2 separate regions of the Homo sapiens genome follow, and region 2 is linked to region 1. A link means that fine-mapping ties the variant in region 1 to the expression of a gene that starts in the linked region. Tissue or cell type: sun-exposed skin. Region 1 holds a variant in brackets; the other region holds the start of a gene. All regions are shown on one strand. Distances are between the middles of the regions. Region 1 overlaps SNX29 (sorting nexin 29). Region 2 holds the start of SNX29-AS3 (SNX29 antisense RNA 3).

Region 1 (2,915 bases):
GGGTCAGACAGCACTGCCCACAGCAGGACTGGACAGAGACACGTGCCTCCAAGCTATGTCCTCTCCCTACCCCTTCATAACAGTCACCCCACCGACTGCTACCTCTCCTCTCCCAACCAACAAGGCACTGGCCTCTCCCAGGCACTCTCAGAGCCTGTTACCTCCAGGGCCTCTCCCCCCAAGCTCTGGTCATTGCAGGGCAGGGCTCATCCTGGCTGTGCTGAATGATGATGGTGGTTGCAGGCTAAGTGGCTGCTCAGACCCCGCATCTGAAGAGCATGACAGGAGGGGGTTGTGAGGGCATGGCTTTAAACTGACTTTTACATCCAAGCCTTCCTGTATCTAAGAATCAGTTCCCCTACACTGCAAGCAAAGACCTCCTTCCAGCATCTTTGAACCATCCTCTAAGGAGCATTCAGGGATAAAGAGGCTCTTCGTAAGTGGGGTCCCCCATCCTTTGAAGAGAGGATCATGTTTGCTTTGGGCCTGCAGCCAGACACCCACCTAAAGGAGGAAAGCACAGCACACGCCAGGCTGGTTGGGCTCAGAGATGATTCAGAGCAGCTCCGGCTTTGTTCAAGGTCAAATGTTTCTTTTTCATCCATGCACAGAAGGCAAAGCAACAACTTGACTTACAGGAAAAGACAATCATTAAAAGGGGTCTTCATTTTGTTAGCTTATCAGGGTGTCAAACTTGAAACGAGGGATCTCACTCGCACAGTGGCCATGTCCCTGGAAAGGTGCAACGCAAAGTAGATCATTGTGAAGAGATTCACTCCTGAGATACATGAAGATGCTAGGCTGTTTCAGGGAACCCTGCAGGGATCCTCGAGGGGAATGATTTCTTTATGAATGCAAGTCTCTTAACTCACATGATTTGTGAAACTGGGCTTGGATACAGCTGGGGGTGGATGTTCCTGATCTGACATTCTCACTTGGCATCTTTGGTCCTTTCTAAACCACAGATAAGGCAGAGCTAGCTGTGGACACAGTCCTGTCTTCCCTTGTAGGGTCCAGTGGATCCAGGACTTACATCCAGCAAGCCACAGCAGCACAGAGGTGCTGCGGACGCAGGAGTGGACATGGATCCTGTTAGGTTTTTGCCTTGTTTTAAAACATTTTATCCCAGTGAGGTATTTACTTCCTATTCAAATAGCGTATAGTAGGCAGAGTAAGAACATTCCTAGCCCCAGAATTTATGTGTCCCCTTATCTAGCAAAAGGGACTTTACAGATGTGATTAAGGATTGGCCAGGCACAGTGGCTCACACCTGTAATCCCAGCACTTTAGGAGGCTGAGCAAGAGGATCACTTGAGACCAGCCTGGACAAGAGCAAGACCCCATCTCTACAAAAAATTACACTCA[G/A]GTATGGTGGCTAGTACCTATAGTCCCAGCTGCTCAGGAGGCTGAGGTGAGAGGATCACTTGAGCCCAGGAGATCGAGGCTGCAGCAAGTTATCATTACACGATTGCACTGTAAAACCTGGGCAAGAGTCGAGACTGTCTCCAGAAAATACAATTTTGAAAAAATGCAACCACATCACAGGACTTCCTGCTGAGCACCCTCTGCTCTCACGGTGAAGCCTCCCAGCCTCTACCCTATCCCCTAAAAAATGTGCCGAGGGCCTCCCACACAACCCAGACCCATGCCCTGGGACCCACACACGCTGTGTGTTCGCGTTGCTTCAGAACCAGGATCAGTGTCCCCCTCTTGGTGTTATCTTCCACTGTTCCTGGCTCTTAAACACAATACCATGCCAAACAACCTTTTAACTAGCCCCTAGCCTAGGGCCTGATTATTTTCTTAGGATTAATTCCACAGGAAGTCCGTCTCCTGTGTTTTGCTACGCATCTTGTGTGGCTTTATGTAGTGTTCTCCAAAGTTGCCTTGGACTTAGAAGCGTACCTTTGCTGGAAAATCAAGGAAAATGTGGGGAAGAAAGCTGTGCCTAGAACATTCTTTCATAGCCTTAAAATGTAGACCGGAACGGTGGTACCATGAGCTAGCTCAGACTCACAGCCAAGCTTGGTTGGAGCCTCGGAGTGCTGTTAAAAAAAAAAAAATGGAAAGGTTTACGTGACAATAGGGGTTTCTCATTTCTTCAGGTGGCACCAGTTAGAGGCAGATCCAATGAGCCAGTCACAGTTGCCAATCAGATCCCTCCTGCCCTCACACCTGGCTCCCCTTCCTGGCCTGTGGTCATTTGCTTTTCATCCCCAGACTTAACCCGATTCTCTCCCTGCTCTTTCAGCGACATCACCCCGCCCGGAGAGCCTGTGAACAGCCGGCCCAAAGCAGCTTCCCGCTTCCCCAAACTGTCCCGGGGTCAGCCCCGGGAGACCCGCAACGTGGAGCCCCAGAGCGGTGACCTCTGACCTCGACAAAACCGCAGCCACGGGCCCTGTGCGTGGCACCAGCTGCGTCCACCCCAGCCACTGCCGCTGGCCCCTCACCTCAGCGTGACAACCACGTCCACCTGGTGATCCTGAGAGCACACGATTCCCAACAGTTACACAACACCCCGATTAAACTAATCAGTCTTCGAGCCGCATGATACCGTGACCCGAGAGACCAAGGCAGCACCTCGCTGGAGAGACTGGGACACACAGTCCTTCTGCTTCTGGGGTCTACCCTGGGCTGCAAGGGCTGTTCCTCCACCTTTCTGTAGTTCAGGGCTGGCAGGAGGGTGGGCACCAGGTCAGGCTGGGTGCGCCATGGTTGAGAGGCAAAGGTGATCCCCTATATAGGAAGGTTCATGCAGAGCCAGCCTCTCCACTCTTTCCCACGTGGGGACTAGAATGACTATTAGCCTCTCCTTTTGCTTTTTAAGGTTATTACCTGGCCTAACCTAGGGATGGCTGGCTTTGCGGGGGGGGGGGGGGGGGGGGGCATGGTTCCTTTCACTGCATTTTCCA
Region 2 (2,915 bases), 43 kb after region 1:
GCCATAAAAAATGATGAGTTCATGTCCTTTGTAGGGATGTGGATGAAGCTGGAAACAATCATTCTCAGCAAACTATGGCAAGGACAAAAAACCAAACACAGCATATTCTCACTTATAGGTGGGAGTTGAACAATGAGAACACATGGACACAGGAAGGGGAACATCACACACTGGGGCCTGTTGTGGGGTGGAGGGAGGGGGAGGCATAACATTAGGAGATACACCTAATGTTAAGCAAGTTAATGGGTACAGCACAGCAACATGGCACATGTGTATTTATGTAACAAACCTGCATGTTATGCACATGTACCGTAAAACTTAAAATTATTGCCATTTAATGGATGGGGGAACTGAGGCCCAGATAGATTAAAAGGTTGAAGCTAATCCGTATACAAGTTTGGGTTAAAGTTCTGGCCTGTGGCTCACATGGCTTTTTTATATTTTGTTTGTATTTTTGAGACAGGTTCTTGCTCTGTTACACAGGCTGCAGTGCAACGGCACAATCATAGTACACTCCAGCCCCTACCTCCTGGGCTCAAGCCATCCTCCCTCAGCCTCCCAAGTAGTTGGGATTACAGGCACATATTGCCACACCCCATTAATTTTTGTGTTTTTAGTGGAGACAGGGTTTTGCCTTGTTTCCCAGGATGGTATCAAACTCCTGAGCTGAAGCCATCCTCTTGCCTCGGCCTCCCAAAGTGCAGGTGTTGTGTGAGCTACTGTGCCCAGCTATGCGTGCCTTGTTTATCCACAGAAGTGGTCAGAAAGCTTCCTGGGAGCAGGGCTGTGGGTTAAGGCTCTGACCAACCCACGCACATTCCCCATCTCCAAACACAATGAGCCCGTAGCAATGAACCCTTGTTAGCCGATTTCATCAACTGAATGCACTTTCCTCAGATCTGATTAGACAAACAGGCTAGCCTGAATCCCAGCTGGGGTGGGAAAGAGACACAGGGAAACAAAACACAACCGGCTATAAGCCAGGGGATGGCCAAGTATTTCTGTAAAGGGCCAAATATTTTTAGGTGCAGATCATGAGATTCCCATTGCCAACTATTCAACTGATGCGTGGACAAGGCTGTGTTCCAACTCACCTTTATTTACTAAACAGGTGGGCCAAAGTTTGCTGACCTCTGCACACTATGATCAATCTATTGAAAGCCAGTCATGGGGATGGGGGTACCTGTTAGATCTGAAAAAATGAGATCTGTCTCTGTTCTTTATAAAGTGGGGGAGGAAGGGCGGTATGGTAAGAAAATGAACAAATTCTGTGCTGAAGACTGAATAATGGTATTTACCTTTGATTTCTTGTTTACTGCATGTCAGGTGCCGTACATTATTCGCTGTAAGCCTCAAAAACTCAGGAAGATTTAGCCCCATTCTCCAGATAAATGAAGTGGCTCAGAGATGTTAAGTTGCTGGAGATCACATAGGCAGGATTCTAACACGAAAGCTTATTCTCATTTCGCTATGTTCCACTGGGCCTGATCCAGTCTCAGCCTCAATTCTCCTGTTTGGGTGGTGCTATGTTATCCAGCAAGATGACCCTGCAAAGTCAATGCTGTGTATTCAAGGCACAATAGACAGTCTTCTAGAGGCAGTAGCCTCCACCTAGCACAATATGGTGACAAGGTAGCCCAAGCTGTCTGACCACTTCAGCCCAAATAATTTCACACAAGCATGAAAATTAGAGAAGATGTCATAATGGTGTCAGAGGGATTTGAACCAGAGCAACTCCATCTTGGGTAGGAGCTGGATAAAATGAGGCTGAAACTATTGGGCTGCATTCCCAGACGCTTAAGACACTTAGTCACAGGATGAGATAGCTGTATCTTGTGCCGACCTGTTTGCTGATAAAACAGGTTGCAGTAAAGAAGCCGGCCAAAACCCACCAAAACCAAGATGGTGCTTAAAGTGGCCTCTGACCGTCCTCACTGCTACACTCCCACCACTGCCATGACAGCTTACAAATGCCATGGCAACATCTGGAAGTTACCCTATATGGTCTAAAGAGGGGAGGTATGAATAATCCACCCCTTGTTTAGCATGTCAAGAAATAGCCATAAAAAAAGGCAACCAGCAGCCCTCAGGGCTGCTCTGTCTATTGAGTAGCCATTCTTTATTCCTTGATTTTCTTAATCACCTTGCTTTCACTTTACAGACTTGTGCTTTCTTTCTTTCTTGCAGGAGATCCAAGAACCATCTCTCTCGGGACTGCATCAGGAACCCTTTCATGTAACAATAATGGTAGAAGCACCTGGGATTTGGGAAAATCTTGGAGAGTACTTTGAATTTCTAAAAACCCATGAAAAGGGAGATTTTAAAAATTCACCAAGTGTTACCTAGATCTTTAGGGGTCCAGAGATGCCAACTAGTTTTGGGGCTCCACACCACAATGCAATAAAAAAAATGAGGCTGCTTTGGTCGAAAAGGGAGGTAACAATGTTACAGGCAAGGGGTCCTGATCCAGACCCCCAAGAGAGGCTTCTTGGATCTCGTGCACAAAAGAATTCAGGGGCAAGTCCACAGTGCAAAGCAAAAGTATGTTTATTAAGGAAGTAGCCTAAGTACTGTTAGCCATAGAGTAGGGCATTCCCAAAAGAAAGGGGAATGCATCCACTCTAGGTACAATGCTTGTTTATAGAGAATAAAAAAGATCATGAGGGGCCGGGCATGGTGATTCACGCCTGTAATCCCAGCACTTTGTGAGGCTGAGGTGGGGGGGATCACTTGAGGTCATGCGTTTGAGACTAGCCTACACAACATGGTCAAACAGTCTGTACTAAAAAATACAAAAATTAGCCAGGGGTGGTGGCACGTGCCTGTGCGCCCAGCTACTTGGGAGGCTAAGGCAGGAGAATTGCTTGAACCCGGGAGGTAGAGGTTGCAATGAGCTGAGACTGCACCATTGTACT

The links. PIP is the estimated chance that this variant, and not a neighbour inherited with it, causes the effect.
Region 2: it holds the start of SNX29-AS3, and the variant in region 1 is the best candidate, but not a certain one, in a credible set for the expression of SNX29-AS3 in sun-exposed skin (GTEx, PIP 0.74).

The regions. Positions count from the first base shown.
Region 1 is chr16:12,566,255-12,569,169 of GRCh38, forward strand. It overlaps SNX29 (sorting nexin 29), which reads left to right. Exons shown (of 21, transcript NM_032167.5): 21 at 2,252-2,915. The coding sequence ends at 2,375. It overlaps SNX29-AS3 (SNX29 antisense RNA 3), which reads right to left. Exons shown (of 4, transcript XR_007064988.1): 2 at 1,906-2,045. Among named protein-coding and RNA genes, the nearest start is that of SNX29-AS3, 43 kb to the right of the region's middle. The variant G/A (reference allele first, on the strand shown) is at 1,366.
Region 2 is chr16:12,609,440-12,612,354 of GRCh38, forward strand. It overlaps SNX29-AS3 (SNX29 antisense RNA 3), which reads right to left and starts at 1,703. Exons shown (of 4, transcript XR_007064988.1): 1 at 1,299-1,703.